Linked DNA regions of Homo sapiens: all the other regions are linked to region 2. Evidence: fine-mapped expression QTL. A gene starts in region 2. Each other region holds a variant in brackets. All regions are shown on one strand. Distances are from middle to middle.

Region 1 (4,148 bases), 45 kb before region 2:
GTGGGGGGTAAGGAGGGGCAGCGGGTAAAACAGCAAGGACTAGAAGACCCACTTGCGAGAAGGCTTCTTCAGCTACAAGTCTGGCTGGAGGATCCATTCCACCTTGTGGATGGTAGGTTGGCTATGGCTATGGGTGAGGGTGGGAGTCATGGGGGGCTGAGTGGGAGCCATCAGACCCCAGGGCTGAGTCCACATGTTCCAGGATCTGACAGCTTAGGAGGCTTAGCAATTCCAGGGCTGGCGCCCCCATGAATAGCTTCTCCAGGATTTTGCAAGTGCTGTTTCCTCCCCCTCCCCACCCATCTCATTAACACCTCGCACTCTTTAATTCTCAGCTTGGCTATCTGGTCCTGGAGGAGGAGCTCCCTAACCCCTGTATGCCTTAGACAGGATATGCTAGATCCTGTCCTCATGGAAGGTCTTATCACATTGTTGGAATTGACTGTCTGCAGACTGAACGCTTGGAGGACAAGGCAGGGTCTTTATCACCAGCACCCAGGACAGTACCAGGCACACAGTAGGCACTTTATGCATATTCACGGAATGAATGAATGGGTGAGACTGATGGATTTTGAATGACTTGAACTTGAGCCTCAGTTTTTCCTCCTAGAAGTTAGCTGGCAACGTAGCTGTGAAGGTGGCAGGAGATAGGTGGGAAATGCGAGGTTAGTAAGAGGAATTGGTAGAAAAATGGTAGTTATGATTTATGCTGAAGAGAGAAAAGCAAAGGAAATTAGATATTGCACCTGAAATGCTTAGCTATGTTTGGTGCAGAATAGGTGCTCCATAAATATAAGATGACGTCATCATCCTCATCCTCATCATTACTATTATTTGTATTATAAGAATGCACATTTCCTGAGTTAGAAGGTCCACATACGATGGCTTGAAATTTTCCTCTGGGCTGGGTGCGGTCGCTCACACCTGTCATCCCAGTACTTTGGGAGACTGAGGCAGGAGGATCGCTTGAGCCCAGGAGTTCAAGACCAGTCTGGGCAACATAGCAAGACTCTTTCTCTACAGATAATTTTAAACATAGCTGGGTATTGTGGTGTGCATCTGTAGTCCCAGTTACTTGGGAGGCTGAGGTGGGAGGATCAACTGATCCCTGCAGGTCGAGGCTGCAGTGAGCCGGGATCATGTCACCGACCTCCAGTCTGGGCGATAGAGCTATTACCCATCTTAAAAAACAAACAAACAAAGACAGAAAAAAGAAATTTTCTTCCAAGCGAAAATGGAGAGGTGTAATCCCCATAGGTCACCTGGGCCAGATGTCTGGGCAGGAGGTCATGCTCTGAGTCAGATTTCCCTTCTGTGCAAGGAAGGACCTGGGACAGGGACCTCTGAGTCTGACACTCTCTGCACAGCTGAGAAGGCCATTCAGCTGAAGTCCCCATTGCAACTGTTGTCCTTCAGCCTGAGGCAGTCAGTCCTTCGGTCTGAGGCAGCCTGTCCCTTGCCCTCGGCTACCCTCCACCCTGCTCCAGTCCTGCTAGGAGAGAACCGCAACACGACCCCGTTTCAGAAATGCGCTCCTTGACAAGCCTGGCTGCGACCTGTTCCTGGTTGACTGCCG[T/C]CATCCGGTGGCAGCATGTGGGAATGACATGCAGGGCTGTGGTGAGGATGAGGATGGAGTGAGCGGGTGGGGGGAACTGCAGAGAGGGCCCTAGTGTGGCCCAGTTGGAAGCGGTGACAGGAAGAACCCACCAGGGATTCCTCAGCTCTGGCCAAGGGGTTGTTCTCTCCCTCTGGCATAGCATCCAGAAGGCCAATAGCAGCGGAACCTCCCCCTGGGCTCTGCCCAGACTGCCTCTCTTTGGCTGTGTGACCTCACCCTGTTTCTGAGCTTCTCTGTGAACTTCTCCAAGCTTGGCTTGTAAGAAGGGAGTGGGCGATGCCCACCTGACAGCAGAGTCTCCTTCCCAGAGAGGCCCCTCAATCCTCCAGAGAATGTGGGAGAGGCTGGGATTTGAAAGGATTGGAGCTGGGGGCAGGGAACGTCTGAGATGGAAAGGTTATAGGAGGGGCTTAGGCCCTGAAGAAATTTCATCCTGTAATTTGAAAATATTAAAAAACCACCACAGCCCCCAGCTGAGGACAGAGGACCAGGCCCCCCAAGAAGAAAGAACATGGCCAGGGAATTGCAGTACTGGAAACTTCTACCCTTATGTTGGTCTTTTAGAATTGTGAAAATTAGAACGTTCAGCATCCTAAAACTGGAATCTTAACAGAAAACACTATATAGTGTATGTATGTGTGTGTGTGTGTGTGTGTGTATATATATATATATTTATATATATATTTATTTATATAGGGGCTGGGTACAGTGGCTCATGCCTGTAATCCCAGCACTTTGGGAGGCTGAGGTGGGAGGATCATTTGAGGCCAGGAGTTCAAAACTAGCCTGGGTAACATATTGAGACCCCCATCTCTACAAAAAATAAAAAATTAGCTGGGTGTGGTGGTGTACACCTGTAGTCCCAGCTACTTGGGAGGCTGAGGCAAGAGGATTGCTTGAGGCCAGGAGTTTGAGGCTGCAGTGAGTTGTGATCGTACCACTGCACTCCAACCTGGGTGACAGATCAAGACCCTGCCAAAAAAAAAAAAAAATTAAAAAGATACACACACATACACACACACATACAGACTAAACTCTGTAGAATCAGATCATTGAGCCTTGAGGTCAGAATCAGAATTGCAGCTGCAAATCTAGACTCAGCCCTCTGAGCTGGAAGTCATCTGAGAGCCACCTCTCCCCTCAGCTTGTCCTGGAAAGAATGTTTGCTCTCACTGCCTGCTCCTAAACTTGTTTGCAATGAATAGATCTGGGGGAGGGCCCCAAAACCTGAATTTCTAAAAGGCTCCCCAGGGGATTCTGTTGTTGGGTCTTCCAGATTTCGGCAATAGATTTAATTTAGCCAGGCTTCCTCTTCATCACATTCATCACATGGGAAAACTGAGGCCCCGGAAGGGGAAGTGACTTGACCTGGACCCCATCAGATAGCTGGTGACAGGCTGGAGCTCCCACCTGTGCCTCCCAATGCCAAGGCCACTCTCACCAGCAGCCCAGGGTGTTTAGATGGCCCCGTGGGACTGTCAACCTCCTAGGTACCCCTGGTCCCTGAGACATCTGGTTCGTGAAACTGCGAGGTTCTGGGGATCGAGGTGTCACCCTCTTCTGCCTCTGGCTGAGTCTGCTTCTTGAGAGTAGCCTGGAGGGGCTGAGGGCCCCTCCTCTTTTATCAGCTCCCCCCAAGCTGAAACCCCACCCCAATCCCCAATACACTCTGACCCCTCTCAGCCCCAAGCATTCCTGTGAAAACCACTCCACATGTTTTAAATTCTGCTACTCCAAACTCAGCAGTATCATGGTTTTGCAACACCCTCTTGATGCTCAAGAAGCATTTACAAGTTTCTTTTCCCTTTATTAAGAAAGTTTTAAAAAAAAGTTAGGGTCTTGAAACAATAACAACGGAGCATTTCAGAGGCACAAACGTTTGCAGAAGAGAAGCTGGTGGCCTGGCCAGGCGGAGGAGGGGGCTCTAGCTGTTCTCGGGGAGGTGAGAGCAGGGAAGTCAGAGAGAGGGTGGGCCTGCTGGGAGGGGGGGGTTCAGGCCAGGGCTCCCCAGCTGCCAGGTGGAGGGCAGGTCTGAGGGTGGGTGCTCTCTTGGGGTCGGGAATGTAATATTTCATCACCTAGAGCCTCTCCCCCAGCCTGCTGACCATCTTCCTTCCCCAGGCCACCCCTGGGCCCCTTGGAGCTCCGACTCTTGCTTCTCCTGCCCATTCCTGTCCCAGTCACGGAGCCCTACGTGTTCAGGCCAACCAGTCACGGCAAATACAAATCCCGTTTCTGAGGATTCCGGGGAGCAGAGCAGGAAGGGGGTGTTATGATGGCAGAAGGATAGGCAGTGAGGACAGACTTGCTTCCAAGCTGGGTCTGACCTGGAGACTCCTCCCAGCGTCGTTCCTGCCTAGGGCGAGGGGCGTCACAGCGAAGCACAGATGCTCAAGTCACTGGTGGTGGGTGTGGGCGAGTGTGGTGGTGGGTGTGGGGGAGTGTGGTGGTGGGTGTGGGGCAGTGTGGTGGTGGGTGTGGGCGAGTGCGGTGATGGGTGTGGGCAAGTGTGGGGGTGGGTGTCAGCGTG
Region 2 (4,141 bases):
TGGTATTACAGGCGTGAGCCACCACACCTGGCCTAAACCAGCTCCTCTTTAGATGAGGAAACTGAGGCTCTGAGAAGGGAAGACCAGCACACCTCAGAAGATATCTTCTCAGCATTATGTCAGGCAGATTGGGATTCGAGCCTGCTTTGCTACTCACCTGCTGTGCGACCTTGGACAAGTCAGTTTCCTTCTCTGAACCTCAGTTCCCTCATCCAGAAAACAAGCATCTCTCCCCTCCCTCCACTAAGCCACTGTGAGTAGCCAAAGACACAGTGGACAGGAAATGAGAATGATTAATACTTACGAGCACCCATTAGGAGCCTGTGTCCTTAGCTACTCATCTTGCCCACAATCCTCCTTATGAGCAGGATACTTAAGTAAAAGATGGGTTGATGAAGGGAAAGGGGGTTTGTTTGATTTTTTGGTATTGTTTAGAATGGAGAAAGATCTCAGAGATCTTCTAAAGGACCCTCAGATGGGTAAAGTGAGGATTGGACAGGCAAAGTGACTTATCCAAAGTCACTCAGTTGGTAACTGGGGAAGCTGGGATTTGAACTCAGTTGACCTGGCTCCAGAGCCCATGCCCCTAACTACTAAACAAAGGCCATTCACAAAGGAGTGTCCCCATAGAGTCCCAAACTCACCCCAGCTCAGCTGAAAACCACACGCCTCTCTAGTCCCTTGTCCCACTGTCACAGCAAGAACTGGAGCCTCTTGGGCCACAGTCTCCCCAACCCCATCCAATCCCACCTCCCAATTCTCCCACAGCCTCTGTCTGCTTCCTGCTCCGTTCCAGGAGTGACTGTGTCGCTGTAGGGCTTTCACACAAATGGAAGGCCCCAGAGGGCAACCCATCCTCTCTCATTTTCCTTCCCCTTTATCCTTGCTCAGACCCGATGCCAGGGCTGGAAAGAGAGAAGACACCAGCTGGACAATTCAGCAGTTATTTAAACCAGTCTGAGCCTTGGAATCCCAGGCTTTATTAAAACTGGACGACCCCTATGTCATGAGCATATAGTTGGGATTTGATGAGCTAGGACATGAAAAACCCGTGGCATAGTGGCTGGCATTCGGCTGCTGATCTTAAGAGTGGCACCTGGAGGCCAAAGGGCTGCCCAGCTCAGGCAGGCGATTTGCTCACTTGCTCACCCGCTTACCCTTCTCTGAGGCACAGGCTCTACCAACTCCTGCTCTGCAGGGACAGCCTCCAACCCACCTTCTGAGGATGTTCTGACTCTCACAGCGAGGCTGTGGCATAGGACTCCCAGGTGAGAGCGCATGCGGCCCCTGGTACATTTATAATCTGAACCTTGGCTCATCTTCCTAGTGGCCTGAGAGGTGAAGATGGAAAAGCTGAGGCTCTCTGAGGGGCTGGACTTCTTCTAGGTCATCCCCTATTAGAATAAGTGAACCTGAACTCAGGTCTCAGGTCTGGCTGAACTCAACATAGGGGGGCCATGGAGGATCACTGCCCTCTGGGAGGTGACACCAGGAGTCAGGGTGAGTGATGAGGCTGGGACTGGGGCCTCTGGACGCCCAGCCCAAGGCTCTCTATGTCACTTCCTGGCCGAGCATGGATGCTTGGAATGGCTTCTACGCCACTGAGTCTGTCTCCTAGTCCCTGTGCCCCGCAGGCTGGCTCTTGAGTCTTCTGTCTCTGCACGAAGCCATCCTCCTTTCTGCTGACCATGCGGCTACTACAGAGAGCCCTGCTACCCTCTCCCTTCTGGGTGAGTCTCCTTGGCCCACCCTACTCAATGGCTCGCTCACTGGGTGCCCTGGAGCCTCAATCTCCCCATCTTAAGTGAGGTTGAGACTCGTCTGGAGGAGCGAAGGACCCAGGGCGCCAGGCACCAGGCAGATGCCCCCAGAGCCGCCGCCCCCGGTCCTCCGGCCCCCGGTCTGCCCCGCAGCGCCTGCCCGGCCGCCCTGCCCAGCCACCCCTTGTACCTTGCTTCTTCCTTCGGTTCAGGGCGAGCATGTCCACGGCGTGGGCGACGAGCAGGAGCAGGCAGAGTGGCGCCCGCATCTGGGCAGCCGGATCCGGGCTGGCGCTCCCCAGGCGGCCCGACGGCCCAAGGGCCCCACGTCCCGGCGGCGGCACGGCGGGCGCGGGGGCTGCTGTGGGCGCGCCGGGCGCATCCGCCAGGCGCGGGTCGGTCCGGCCGCCAGGTCTAGTGAGGGCGTTGGCGGAGCCGGGGCACTGCCCTGGCGGGGAGGAGCCGGCGCGGCGGGGGCGGCGCGTTAACCAGCTCGGGGCCCGGGAGCGCGCGCGGGGAGGGGGCGGGGGTCACCCGGGTCGGGGCCCTCGAGTTCGATCTGTCCCGCAGCCGGCGGTCTTGCGTCTTTCCCGCCCCCAGCACTGCCCCCGAGCACGTGCACGTGCCCACCGCCAGCCACAGGTACGCACGCGCGCGCAGGTACAGATGCGCGGACACCCGGAGACCCGTACGGTCCCCCGCGCCCTCTCAGCGCCTGTGATTTTCTTTCCCTCCCCCCAGTCCCCTTTCTCTGTCTGTTCCTCCTTCTGGCCCTTAAGGACAACTCCTTGTCTCCTGCTTTCTCGGTCTTTCCGCGGCCCGCGCTCCCCTGCTCTGCCCCCGACCCTGCCTGGCTGTTCCTGCATCCTTTACTCTTGCCGGCCGTCTCTCTCTCAGGCTCACTGTCTGTGTCCTCCTGGCTGGGCCTCTGGTTCTCCCTTTTCTCTGTCTCTCCCTTCAACCCCATCTCTCCCCTTCTCCCCTCCTGCAGGGTGGGGTGTTTGCGGGGCTCCTGCTGCCTGGCTTTCTCTTTTTCTCTCTACTCTGTCTCATTCTTTTAACAGAGGCCTGAGCCCCTTCTGGCCACTAACCCTGAATGTTTCCTGTGCAGTCTGCGGGGATCATCTACTCCGACTCAAAGTGACCAGCACCTCATAAATCCACTTGTGACAGGGCTGGGGACCTGGACTGTGTTTCCTCCAACCTTATCACCAGGACTGGGAGCAGCTGGTTCAAGTTTAACCCTTTCAGAGCAAAATTCCTCCTTCAACCCGACAGCATGCTCACCTCTCCTGTCACTATAACCACCAAAAACAACAACAATCATGCTAGCTATCATTTGTGAGGCATATATGGTGGGCATTGCTAAGAACTTGACATATACTAGAGTCTTCAAAACAACCCAATGGTTTGGGTTTGTATTCTGAGTAATTCCACTTTTCTGGGGAGCAAAGGGAAGCTCAGAGAGGCCAAGTGACTTGCCCAAGGCCACACAGCAGGTCAGTGGCCATTCTGGTCCAGTGCCTGCCCCTCTTAGCCACTTCTCAGGCACAGACTCATCAGAATGGAAGAGGCCTTGGAGGGAGGCCTAGAGAAACTTACAGTTGACACTCTCTTGCTGAACAATTGTCCTTCCTTTTTCTTTTCTTTTTTTTTTCTTTTTTTTGAGATGGGTTTTCACTCTGTCACCCAGGCTGGAGTGCAATGGCGCCATCTCGGCTCACTGCAACCTCTGCCTCCTGGGTTCAAGTGATTCTCCTGCCTCAGCCTCCCAAGTAGCTGGGATTACAGGCACCTGCCACCACACCCAGCTAATTTTTGTAGTTTTTAGTAGAGACGGGGTTTCACCATGTTGGCCAGGCTGGTCTTGAACTCCTGACCTCAAGTGATCCACCTGCCTCAGCCTCCCAAAGTGCTGGGACTACAGACGTGAGCCACCCCACCCAGCCTGTCCTCTTTTTTCCTACATGTGGAGCTTGCTCCAAAAGAAATGGAAGGTAAATGCTGGTATCTCCTCCAGCTCCTTCTCCCAGTGCAATGAGGGACACTTGAAGGCATGGCAGGGGCAGGGGAAACACACAGAGAGTGTGGCAGCTGAAGGTACAGCCCTGGCCTGGCCATTCTTTCTGTGGGGCCCCAAGAACGCTGGCAGACAACACGGAGAACTTGGTGGAATGTCAGAGACAGCCCACCCAAAGTGCTCCATTTCACAGATGAGGCCACTGAGCCTTCAGGACTGGGGGGTGCCTAGATTAGGCCACCCAGTGAGTCAAGGACTGAGCTGACATGGGCATCCAGGTGTCCCATTGTGGTCATCACCATGGCCTGCAAGGACCTCTTGTTCTGATATCTCTGATCTCAGTCTTTCCCACTGCCCCACC
Region 3 (4,000 bases), 27 kb before region 2:
TCAGCACAACTCCTGCAGTTTCACTGGGGACACTGAGGCCAGAAGGGGTGGAGCTTTCCCCAAAGTCAGGCAGCCAACTGCAAAGAAGCCTCAGTCCTCAGTTAGAGTTATAGCACTATTTGTTTTTTGTTTGTTTTATTGTTTGTTTGTTTGTTTGTTTGTTTGTTTTTGAGATGGAGCCTCACTCTGTTGCCCAGACTGGAGTGTAGTGGTGCGATCTCAGCTCACTGCAAACTCCGTCTCCCAGGTTCAAACGATTCTCGTGCCTCAGTCTCCCGAGCAGCTGGGATTACAGGCACCCCCACCAAGCCTAGCTAAATTTTTTTGTATTTTTAGTAGAGACGGGGTTTCGCCATGTTGGCCAGGCTGGTCTCGACCTCCTGACCTCAAAAAGCTACAGTATATGCTGAAGGCCAAAGAACCCAACAAGCCCCTCCCAGGCCTCATAGAGTGCTGGCCCACTGGATGGTGCTTAGCATCCTTCAATACCCTGGTCTTTGAAGGTCAATACCCTGGTCTTTGAAGGGTAGTGGCTGTTTCTGGCCTCATCCTCGACCCTGGCAGTTGGCTAGGATGCCCTCTTGTGCCTCTATGTTGTAATGGCACCTCTTGCTTTTTGACTTCCGGTAGCCTGTCTGGTGTTTCGTCATGTCTCTGTAACTCATTAGAAAAAGCAGTGCTACTGCCTCTCTCTACCCCCTGCCCTAAAGTCACGGGTGCAGGCGCTTGAATGTTCATTCTGTGAATCATCAGTGATGACAAGAGTCTGTAGAGTGCTGCTCTAGAAAGATCCAAACTTGAAGGTTCTTAAACTTGACTGTGATAACAATCTCCAGAGAGGCTTGTAAAGCGTCTGCTGTGGGCCAGGAATGTGCACTTTAACAAGTCCAAAATAAATGTAACAGAATTTTGGAAGTGTCTTCCCTGTTCACAGTTTCCTTTCCCTGAGAACTGGCCCCAGTAATCCTGTTTGTAGGGCATGACTCTGACCCTAACCAATGGCTGTCTCTTCCAGGATGGGCCAATTAGACCATCTCTCTCTGGGCTGATGGACAATGGTCTGCGCTGGCCTTGACCTAAGGCGATCTGCAGGTGGGAGGGTAGCCTGTTCCAATGCACATGTGTGAGAAGCCTTGGTGGGCACTAGCTAACAGAGGCTCTGCTCCTCTGCACTCTCTGGCATTGAGGTTCGTGTGCTGCCATATCCACCCAGATGCACTTAACCTGGGCTTGGCCAATCAGAGCATCAGGTCCCCTTGACTACAGTGGTTGTAGGTTCAGACACAGGCTCACATCCCCACAAGAGCTAGTCTTGGGGTTTTTGCTGAGGTCAATGGATGTGTGTGGAGATGTGTGTGTTTTCCTTTCCTCTCTTTGGATCTAGGAGGATATAGATCAGAGCTGGTGGGTGCCACATGAGGGAAGAGCCTCTGGAGAATGGAGGCCATACAGCAGAAACAGAGCCAAGAGACACAGACAAAGACCAAAAAGAGTCATCTGTGCATGTGGATCCACCCTGGGGATCCATAAATTCTCTTTTTTTCTCAGGTCACATTGAGTTAGGTTTTCTGTCACTTGCAACCAGATGATTCCCGACTAATACAGAAGTAGAGAGAGAAAAATAAATCAGATGCAGAGAGAGAAGCAGCAACCAGAACCTCACGGGCTCCTTGAGACAGAAAAAATTTCTGACTGCCTCCCAGTCCTTCCCAAAGCTTGGCTTGTCCCATAGCTCCAAATCCAGTGACTTTTTCACTTGAGCTGGTTTTCTTCTGTCAAATTACAATAAAAATGGATGTAGCTCACTAGACAGCGAACAGATCACGGTGGAGCAGCGCTGCTTTGGCGCGGATGAGGAACCTGGAGCACCACCTATCCAACCTGATCACCCTGGTGCTCCAGGGGACACTGAGGTTCCAGGGAGCACACTTTGAAACCCCCTGGGTCCTTCTACACATCTTGGCCTCTGTCGCTGTCCTCTCCCAGCTGAGATGCACATTTTAAAAGCATTCAAGCTCTAGTTGCAACCTCCCCAAGTTTTCTTGGGCCATCACA[G/A]TGGATGGCAGGCACCCCATGTAACTTCCATTAACAACTGTCTCCCATAATCAAGACCATCCTCCCTCAGTCAAAACACCAGTAGGCCACAAAAGCATGGCCCTGTGTTGCTCCAGCAGCTGGAGAGGCTTAGAATGAAATCTGAGTCACTCCATGTTTCCCCAAGCACCCGAGGGATGAGTCCAGATTTGGATGTCCATTTTATGGAGAATGAGAGTGGAATCAAACACACCAGATTTGACAGTTTGCAAAGTGATAAAGGCTTATGACAACTCTGAATGCGTGCATTAACCCAGGGTTGAGTGATCCATTCATTCATTCATCGACCCATTCATTCAACAATTACTGAGCCCCTATTCTGGGTAAGGTCCAGTGCTAGGACTCAATGGTTATGAGCTTTGGGGCAGTTGTGTGACCTTGGGCAAGGTACTTTACCTCTACAAGCCTCAGTTTTTCCAGCTGTAAATGGGGATAATAATGCTTATCTTGCAGGGCTGTTGTGATTAAAGGAGATGGTACGTGAAAAACTGTTAGCTCAGACCACCTGCAGCAGGCATCTGATAAACTGAAGCTACCATTATTATATTGAGAATGATGTGTTTTCTGCCCTCAAGGGACTTAAAAATCTAAAGACGTGTAACAATGCAGGTTCCCAGGTTGATATCCTGGCCCCATCACTCATTGAATGAGATCCCTCGTCTCTGTGGGCCTCAGTTTCCCCATCTGAAAAATTGTGGCAGCAATTCCTACCTCCACGTGATTTGTTATGAGGGATGTGCAAACCAGCAAGCACTGGCACACAGTAGGTGCTCCTCTGTAAACCTAGGTTCCCTCCCTGTTCCCTCACCATCATGACACACAGTGGGACTGTCAACCAACATCTGGACCCTTGTCCTCTTTCCCAGGTGAGCAAACAAAAGCCAGAGATGTTGGTGAGGCTGGAAGGAGGCCAGCAGGGTCCAGGGACATGGTCTTTTGCCCTCTGGATGGTGAAGTGCTCAGGGCAGAGATACTAGCCAGCAGCTTTGGTCCTAGGTGAAGGGCAGGCTTATTCCTTCTTTTGGGAATAGGGAATAACCTGTGCCCTTCAAATAAGGGTCCCTAAGCTCAGGTTCACCCACATCCTGAGAACTGCCCCAAGCACCTTGTTTCAACAGGAGTCAACGGCTCAACATGTGCAAGTGATCGCTGTATTTTTTTTTTCCATTTCAGGGTTTTGAGTGAACTTAGGGTCATCTCTGCCATATCATGCCTTCCATCTGCCTTCACTCTGCAGAACTTCCCTGAGGGGTCAAAAATGCAGGGTGACATCTGGGACGCTGAAAATGTCATGTTCTCCTAGGCAAGCTCGTCTCCTCAGTAGCCCAGTGAATCTGTCATTGAAATTTCCTTAATACCCAAGCCAGAAAGCCTAGCCCCATACATTTTTTTTAAAAAAAACAAGACTAATTTGGATAGATTTCTAGCATTTAAAAAATCAAGAGATTTCACATTAAAAAGCTGGAATTTGAACTTCTCTGGAAAAAGTCAGAACATCTACCAACACTGGGTCTGCTGTCACAGGGCAGTGAGTGGTTAGAGTTACATAAATAAGGCATATGTTCCCCAGGTTACTGCAGACCCTACCCCTCCCTATTGTATTTCAGATACTGAGGGAAAAGGTCAGCTGCCCTATGTTATCATCCTTGAGCTACATCTTAACACCCACTTCACTCACTCACAATAGAAAACAATGTAGAGCAGGGGTTCTCAAACTTGGGCATGCATCAGATTCACCTAGAGAGCCTGTTAAAAACACAGGCTGCTGGGCCTTACCCTAGAGTTGCTGATTCATTAGGTCTGGGCAGGGCCTGAGAATCCGCATTGCTAACAGGTTCCCAGGTGATGCTGACCTTTGCTGGTCCTGGGCCCACACTTTGAGAACTACTAGTGTGGAACAGGGTTA
Region 4 (4,148 bases), 21 kb after region 2:
GAAGGGGCGAACCGTCAGTGAGCACCATTCACATACCTTAGCCGGTTCAGCTTCACCACCCTCTGAAGGTGCCATCAGCAGCTCCCTTTTGCTGAAGAGTAAGCGGAGGCCCAGAGAGGTCATGTGGTGTGTGCTTGAGGTCACATGGCTGAGAGGTGGCACCAGATTTGCCCAACTCTCAAGTCCCATAGTCTAACGTTTCACTCCACTCAGATTCAACCTCCCAAGAAATTATTTGTTTGAGTACCTACTAGGCACCAGACTCAGAGTGAGAGGCAGTTGCAGATTCACTCAGGGCCAGTTTTGGAGGCCAGCTTCACAATCACCCAGCACAGCCCATCTTTCTACTTGTGAGGAAACAGAGGCTCAGTGAAGGAATGCCTTTCAGATCACAGAGAGGATGAAGCCAGGATATTCAAACCCAGCTTATTTTACTACAACTCTATATGGTAGGAAAGAGAAAAGCGCCCATACAATTTCAGTGGCTTGACGTGGAGCCTGGCAACAGATGTGTTCTTGGACTGTTGGCTATAAGACAAACCAGCTTTCCCCACTGACTGTCACCGTGTTTTGGGAGACAAAGCCTAGGACTTTGGTGTGTCCACCGTGGGTCAATAAATGCCCCCAAACAAGCATATCTTGCAAAAGTGGGGACTTATTAATTCATTGATTCGTTTCTTGATTGATCAATTGATTTATATGTCCCTGTTGGACAAAGGGTTTGAGGCAGCCTGGGAAGGAAGTGAAGTGTGGAAACTGGTCATCTTCTGTGCTTCTTACATTCCACTCATTGGGAACATCAAAAAATGAAAAAAAAATCCAGCTGCTACATAGCTGGGGAACAAATTCTTGGTATGGAAGTAATTCTGCTAAGGCTAGCCTCCTCAGAGTAATTCCAAATGCTTTTCCTATTTTCAAATTTAATTAGGAGACATTTCTGTAGTGTGAGTCATCATTTAATAATGGGGGGTGTTTATTAGGGAATGAGTGGAAAGAGAACAGGACAGCTGGATAATTCAAATCCCAGTTCTTCAAGTCTCTGGCTGTGTGATCTTGGGTGAGCCACTTCACCTCTCTGAACATCAGTTTTCTTGTCTTTAAATTGATATTTACCTGGCAAGGTTTGGGGAAGGTCTCAACTAGATTATGTACATAACAAGCTTGCCAGTGTTAGTACATAATAGGTGTTTAATAAATATTAACTGCCTTCTCTTCCCATTTATTTTCTTATTTGGTCTTCTAAACAACCTTGGGGACCATGATAGGTATGTTGTTTGCTTTCTCTAGCATGAAAACAGCCTCCCAGAAACTACTCAGCCAATCCTCTGAAATGGTATTTCCGGTCAAATCTGATGCACCTTCTGAGACTTTTTTTTTTTTGTCTTTTCCAGTAAAGCCAAGCACATAGTCATTGTTAGTTTTAAAAAATGTATTTGGATGGGGTATGAAGTTCAGAAGAGAAAGACATTCCTGGTTGGGTTATTCAAGCAAGGATCCCTGAAGAAGAGATGCTAGCATTTGGCTAGGTGATAGGAAGGGGACAGGAAACAGCAAAAGGCAGGATGTGGAGGCAGAATGAGTTGAAAGATGCTGTTATTGAAGGCGATGGTGGTAGTTTATCCCTGAAAGCCACCAAGAGCTCAAGAGCAGGAGGGAAGAAGATGAGTTTCTGTTGAAGAAAGACCAA[A/T]GTCACTCACTGGCTGATTTGTGCTTGGGAGGAGCATCTCTTTCCCCTGCTGATTGGGAGTCTTTTGTTTCCCTGGGACAATAGGCACTGGTCACTGAAGAGTGTGTCTGTCCTCCACACTTTCCCATGTTCCTGTCTCTGGGGAACTCCTCCCTGACTCCGAGAGACAGGATGGAGTTGTCAATCAAGATGTCTGTCACTTTGCCTACCAGGGGAGAGCTTTCCAAGTGGGGCCCTGTTTTTCTGCTGGGGCTATAGGGGAGGGTCTCCATCTTCATGTGTCAGGATGTAGCCTTGGGGCTGCTGGTGTCATATTTATGCCACATGGAATGAAGCTGTCTGAAGCAGGAAAGGATGATATTACCAAGCAAAAAGAGATGCAAAGCTGAGTGTGGACGGAGGCCTGCTTCTGATCCTGTCCATGTACTTGGATCAAACCATGCCTGAACTCCATTTGGTTTGCACCTTATGGGGCAATAAGGGAATAAGTAATTCTCTTTGTTTATTCAACAGGATTTCTGTCACTTGGCAATTCTGATTAATACAGACTTCTGATTAATACAGTTGGCAAATGAGAGACAAGTGATCTCTTCAGAAATGGACAGAGCAGGAAAGGAACCCACCAAGCATGGAGAGGTTGAATGAGAGTCTCTTCTTCCCCATTGACTCACTGCAGCCCTGGATCAGGTTGCTGCCCTTCTCTGGGACTCAGTTTTATCATCTGTGAAATGGGCTGCAGTGAGTGGGAAACAAAATCATTTATTTATGCCCAACCTTGTTGCAAAAATGATTTAAGACAGCTTACAAATGTATTAAAGCCAGAGATTAGGAAAAGAAAGAGATAATGAAATTGTGAGAAGGGGGAGAAAAGGTGAACTCAAGGATGAGGTTAGGTTATTGAATGCCTGCTGTAAAGTTCTGGACAGTTGCTAAAGGTGAACAGACAAGTTTGTTCTGAGATTCTTTGTAGCCAAAGCAAGAAAAAGAAAATGCAGTTACGTGGATTTGTAGGAAAAAAAAAAAAAACAACCCGGTTCCTGAGAAGAAGCCCAACTTTTCTTAGAATAAAAGTCTGAAACAATTTTCCTTGTGGTTCCCCATCAAAAGGACTTTGTGAAATACCATGAGCAAATATAAAAACCAGACAGGTTGAGTATCCCTTATCTGGAATGCTTGGAACCAGAAGTGTTTCAGATAACAGATTCTTTTGGATTATGGAATATTTGCATATACAGTCCTACCTCGGGTATAGGACCCAAGTCTAAACACAGAATTCATTCATGTTTCGTGTATACCTTATACAAGTTACCTGAAGGTAATTTTATTTTTCTGTGTGTTGTGCACCTGCATTTTGACTGCAACCTGTCACGTGAGGTCAGGTATAGAGTTCTCTACTTGTGGCATCATGTTGGTACTCAAAAATTTTGGATTTTGGAGCATTTTCAATTTCAGATTTTCAAATTACAGGTGCTCAACATTTAACAGGCTGGGGTAAATAGTTGCAACATATTTAATAGTCGGAGGATTAAAATCCACAATAAAATAAGAGCTCCCACAAATCAATAAGGACAAAGGAAAAAAACACTCCATCAATAAAATGGGCAAAAAGGGATAAGAACACAATTCACAATAGGGGAAATAGCTATCAAATTAGAAAAAAATATCAGAAGAATGGGTAATATCAGTGTTGGTCACAGTGTGGGGAAATAGGCATGCTCAGACACCTTAACTTACTTTTAGCGTTTCTCGTCACCTGACACACCATATATATACGTCTCTACGTGTTGGGGATCTCTCTCTCTGACCAGATTGCAAGTTCCATGAGAGTAAGGACTACCTCCTCATCACTGCTGAATTCCCAGAACCTAGAACAGTGTGCCCAGAACAGAGTAGATCCTTGATAAATATTTATCAAGTATGTGAGTCAATAAATAAATGAGTGAATGAATGGACAGTGTGTAAACTGGGGTCATATATTTGGCAGGCAATTTGGCAACATTTATTAGAATGAAAATGCACAAACACTGATGCAGACATTCCTCCTTTAGCCATACGCTCGACTGAGACATACAAATATTCAAAGGAATGGGTCAAAGAGTGTTTTTGTAGTGCTGTTTAAATGGCAAAAGTTGGAAATGACCTAAATGCCAAACAATACTACACTAATAAAGTTATGGTTTATTCTGACTGTGAAATATTGTGTGTTCTTCTTTAAAAAAATAGTGTTTTCATACTGATGTGGTCAGATCTCCAAGATACATTATCAAAAGAAAATAGCAAGTCACAGAACAATAATATGTAACATTTACGGTAAAAACAAAACAAACTTTCCAGGCGCAGTGGCTCACGCCTGTAATCCTAACACTTTGGGAGGCTGAGGCGGGTGGATCACGAGGTCAGGAGATTGAGACTATCCTGGCTAACACGGTGAAACCTGTCTCTACTAAAAACACAGAATATC
Region 5 (4,148 bases), 59 kb after region 2:
ATCTTAATTAGCACCTTCTGTAGCCATCCCTAGGCCTTGGGGTGCTAAGCAAGAAAAAGGCATAATTTCCATCCTCAAGGATCTCACAGTCCAGGGGAGGAAGCAAAACTCATAGGCATTCATTCGACACACATTTATTCTCTGTATAGATATGAGTAAAATATTGCATATCCTCAAGGAAAGGGGGAACTCCCCAGCTAATGGGACAGACAGATGAAGAACAAGTAAGTACAGTGTATAATGAGGTGACAGAAGCCACCACTCATTGCTCTGACTAGGAGGAAACAACAAGATGCCTTAGACTCTTTTGGCCAAGGAAAGACACACTAGCTGTGTGAATGCCAGGTGAGCTGGCATCATTTGTCTGGGATAGGGTGCAGTGGAGGCTGTTGAGGCCTGACAGCTTCCCCCTTCACCTTACTCCATTGTTTGCCAGGCTCATGCCTGGGAGAACCATATGCATAAGAAGACCTGGATCTTATAGGAAGAAGAAGTGGAAAAGCCAATACCTGACCTCCAGGAATCAGAATTTGTGTTGCAGGTTGGGTTCTATGCAGGCAGACACGAAGACAGAGTTTAGGTGCAAGGTGTTTATTAGGAATCAATATCTGGAAAAGAAAGGGGCAGGAATCAGGGTTGAGGAGGAGGAGATACTTAACTGCAATGTGACCCAGTAAAGCGTTGGTCAACATGGTGAGGAAGTTGGGAGCAAGAATTATCCCTCGATAGACACCCCGTTCTACATGATGTAATTATTATGAATTACATGCCTGTATCAAAACATCTCATGTACCCCATAAATATATATATACCTACTATGTACCCACAAAAATTAAAATTAAAAAGAGTTACCCCTCAGAGAATCCCAAAAGATATCAAAATATCCAGACTTTTGTCTCAGCCCCTTCATTTTGATAGTTCACTATTCACCAAATACAGGTTGCCCCAGGAAGGGCATGGCCTGGGATGAAGTGGCCCTCTCAAGCTGAGGCTAACCTTGAAGGGGCTGAAGCTGAAGGCTCTCTGCTGACCATGCTTCCCCCGCCTTCAGCTGTCAAGTCCTTCAGGGTCAGCTCAGTTCTGAGTGCCACTTTACTTGGGGTCACTTCTTTGATTCCAAGCAGTTTAACATAATGGCAACCACAGTTAGGGAGACCTGTCCTGGTGGATCAGGGTGGCCCAAGCTAAGGTCTGGAGGAAAGACGACCCTCAAGAAAAGATGTCTCCTCTGTCCCTCCACCCCATTCATACTAAGGGCCATGGGTTCATGGAGAGGGTTTCAGATGGGCACATTATAGGGCTGAGGCTAAAAGTCTCTTTGAACCAACTCACACTTGTACAGAAGTGATGCTGTGAGGACTAATGAAAACAAGTAGCATCTACTGCATGCTTAACATACACCAGGCACTATTCCAAATTTTTTACCCACATTAGTCATTTAATTCTCACATTACCCTATCAGAGGAACAATGATGAGCATGGGTATGTAGACCAGAAGGAGCTAAAACCCTAGAACACAAGCAGAGGACACCAGTGAGCCCAGGAAAGGCCCTGGGCCCCTGGAAGCAGTCTCCTCATCCGCCTGCATGGGCCAGGGTTCAACAGAGGCACCATGTGGCTGCAAGAGGCAGAAATGGCTGCAGACTGAGCTCTACTAGTTCCTTCCACTTGATGTTTGAATAAAGTCCCTGGAAAACTTGGGGAGATGGGATGAGTATCTCAGCTGGGAACACACCAAGACTTCTTAATAAGGCATGGAGAGGCTCAAGCAATTGATTGGAAAGAAAAAAAAAAAACAAAACTAACTCAAGTTGGTAGATTTTACCTGCCATGAGATGTTTGTGAATAGCAGAGCACAGGGTAGAGAGGTCACTGCCAAAGAGCAACTCCCAGTCACCCTTGACATGTGGCATCCCCTCTCATGCCTCCACGTCTGCATAAGCTTGGTAATCTTGTGCCCTCTGACACCATTCTCC[C/T]ACCTGTCACCCCACTCCATTCTGCCCATCAGGATAATGCTGCCACATCCTCCAGGAAGCCTTCTCTGGCTGTCCTTCTCCATGACGCTAGGCTCCCCTTCCATCTTCCCACAACTTCATGTACCTCCCTCTATCATTTTATTTATCAATCATTCTAGATTTTATGTGTTTATGACTGACTTTCCTCCTAGATTATGAGGCAGTATGATTATATTATTTACCTTTCCCACTGTCATGCATTCCCATTTATCTCACTCGGCGATTGTCACAACAATGCTGCAAACTAACTACCACTAAGCTCAGTGGCTTAAAACAATAACTTCTTCTCACTCATGGGTCTGTAGGTCAGCTGGGATTCTGGTGGTCTAGACTGGGCTGGGCTCCAGGCATGCATGCGGATCTGCTCCACGCGTCTCTCATCCTCCTTGACCCACAGAAGACAGCTGGAAGCAGGCAGGACCTCATAGGCTTTAGCTCAGAGCTGGTGTGCTGTCACTTCTGCCCATGTTCCATCAGCCAGAGCAAGTCACATGGCCAAGCTCAACATCAATTAGATGTGGAGAAAATTGATGAGTCATGTGGCAAAGGGCATGGATATAGGAAAAGGTGAAAATTAGGAATAGTATGATTTACTGTGACACAGATGCTTTCTGGTGAACACCAACCTCTCCAAACTCATTTCAAGACCCTTCCTCATCAGCCCAGTGCTCAAGGTCAATTCCTGCAACCTTCAGCCCTTTGTAGCCTTTCAGTCTTTTGAACACACTGTACTTTTTGTCTGACATACACCTTTCCCATCCCTTTCAGATCTCAGCTGAGATGTCATCTCCTCAAAGATTTGCATGGCTGTAGGCTTTGCCACCAGGAGATAGTGACCCAACAAACAAGCTTGTATGGGTGAGTCCCTGAATCCAAACCCAACCCTGCCTGGCCTTGCCACTCACTGCTGTGAGGCCCTAAGAAAATCTTATCTTTTTTCTACTGCTGTTTTCTTATCTGCCAAAAGTAAATAAAAACATCTTCCCATATCAGTTAGAAATGCTTGCAGCTGCAAGTAGCAGAACCCCTAATAGTAGCTAAAACAATAATATCTCACAAACTAGATGCCTGGAAGCAAGAAGCTCCAGGGCTGGTTTATTGGCTCAGTGATGTAAGGACTAAGTGCTCACTCATACCCTCTCATTTCTCCTCCTTCCCTTTCCCCATTCTACTAGGTTGGTGCAAAAGTAATTGTGGTTTTTGCCATTACTTTCAATGGCAAATTGTGGTGCAAAAGTAGTTGTGGTTTTTGCCATTACTTTCAATGGAAAAAACAGCAATTACTTTTGCACCAACAGCAAAAACAGCAATTACTTTTGCACCAACCTTAATATTTCCACAGTGTCTTCCCTAAAGTCTCACAGAAGGTTCCCTTTACATTTTACTGGGCAGACATGGATCATATGGCCACTCTAGCAGGAAAGTGAAGTGGGAATGCCAATATCAGGGTTTTGTTGTTGTTGTTGTTCAGCCTCCTTTGGGGGAAGCAGCAAACGAGAAGGGGGTAAGAATTGGCTGCTGTGTAATCAACTCACAATATCTACTCCTGATCTAACTTTCTACCTCACAGAATTTTTGTGAAAATTTGGATTGCCAGTAGCACTCTGAAGGCCACAAGCTTATAAAATAATAATCTACTTTTATTATTATTCATGACTTATTAAGAAAAAATCAATATTGGAAGAGAATAATACTTCGCATTTGTTCAACAATGAACTTTCCGAAGGTGAAAGGAAAAGCAATTACTGTCTGAGCCCAGCCTGAGTCCCAAGTCCATGCCAAGCGCAAGCCTGCAAGACCATTTCCTCCTCCAGGGACTTGCTTCGATTGTGCTAAAACAGCTTCTGCCAAGCCAACCAGGATTGCATGCTGCCAAATCCAGTACTCATTTTCCTGATCTTATTTTATTTGAATTCCCTGAGCATTCAATCCAGTTGGCAGCACCCTCCTTGATACATGATCCTGTCTGGGCTTCTGTATGCTCACAGCCCTGGTTGTTCCTCAGTCTCCTCTGCTGGCTTCTCCCCATCTACCTGGTTTCTAGATGCCAGCTGACTCAGGACTCACATGTGAGCTCCTCTCCTCCTTCCCACCCCCTATGCTCTTTCTGTCTCAGGTTTCTCAAACCTTAGC

Which allele goes with the higher level. Alleles are on the strand shown, and positions count from the first base shown. SD is a standard deviation of normalised expression in the study named. Not every link is listed here.
As copies of T replace A in region 4, the expression in anterior cingulate cortex of the gene that starts at base 2,176 in region 2 goes down (moderate effect, 0.48 SD a copy in GTEx).

What was found. PIP is the estimated chance that this variant, and not a neighbour inherited with it, causes the effect.
Region 1: its variant is fine-mapped to the expression of RSPO4 in tibial artery (GTEx, PIP above 0.99). The same link has a PIP of 0.9 or more in ovary.
Region 3: its variant is fine-mapped to the expression of RSPO4 in cerebellum (GTEx, PIP 0.99).
Region 4: its variant is fine-mapped to the expression of RSPO4 in anterior cingulate cortex (GTEx, PIP above 0.99).
Region 5: its variant is fine-mapped to the expression of RSPO4 in prefrontal cortex (ROSMAP, PIP 0.95).

Annotation. Positions count from the first base shown.
Region 1 is chr20:955,048-959,195 of GRCh38, forward strand. RSPO4 (R-spondin 4) reads right to left here. Exons shown (of 5, transcript NM_001029871.4): 5 at 3,405-4,148. Among named protein-coding and RNA genes, the nearest start is that of ANGPT4, 41 kb to the left of the region's middle. The variant T/C (reference allele first, on the strand shown) is at 1,577.
Region 2 is chr20:1,000,136-1,004,276 of GRCh38, forward strand. It overlaps RSPO4 (R-spondin 4), which reads right to left and starts at 2,176. Exons shown (of 5, transcript NM_001029871.4): 1 at 1,951-2,176. The coding sequence starts at 2,029.
Region 3 is chr20:973,322-977,321 of GRCh38, forward strand. The region is part of intron 1 of RSPO4 (R-spondin 4); the gene reads right to left. Among named protein-coding and RNA genes, the nearest start is that of RSPO4, 27 kb to the right of the region's middle. The variant G/A (reference allele first, on the strand shown) is at 2,056.
Region 4 is chr20:1,020,672-1,024,819 of GRCh38, forward strand. No RefSeq gene overlaps it. Among named protein-coding and RNA genes, the nearest start is that of RSPO4, 20 kb to the left of the region's middle. The variant A/T (reference allele first, on the strand shown) is at 1,688.
Region 5 is chr20:1,058,721-1,062,868 of GRCh38, forward strand. No RefSeq gene overlaps it. Among named protein-coding and RNA genes, the nearest start is that of PSMF1, 58 kb to the right of the region's middle. The variant C/T (reference allele first, on the strand shown) is at 1,977.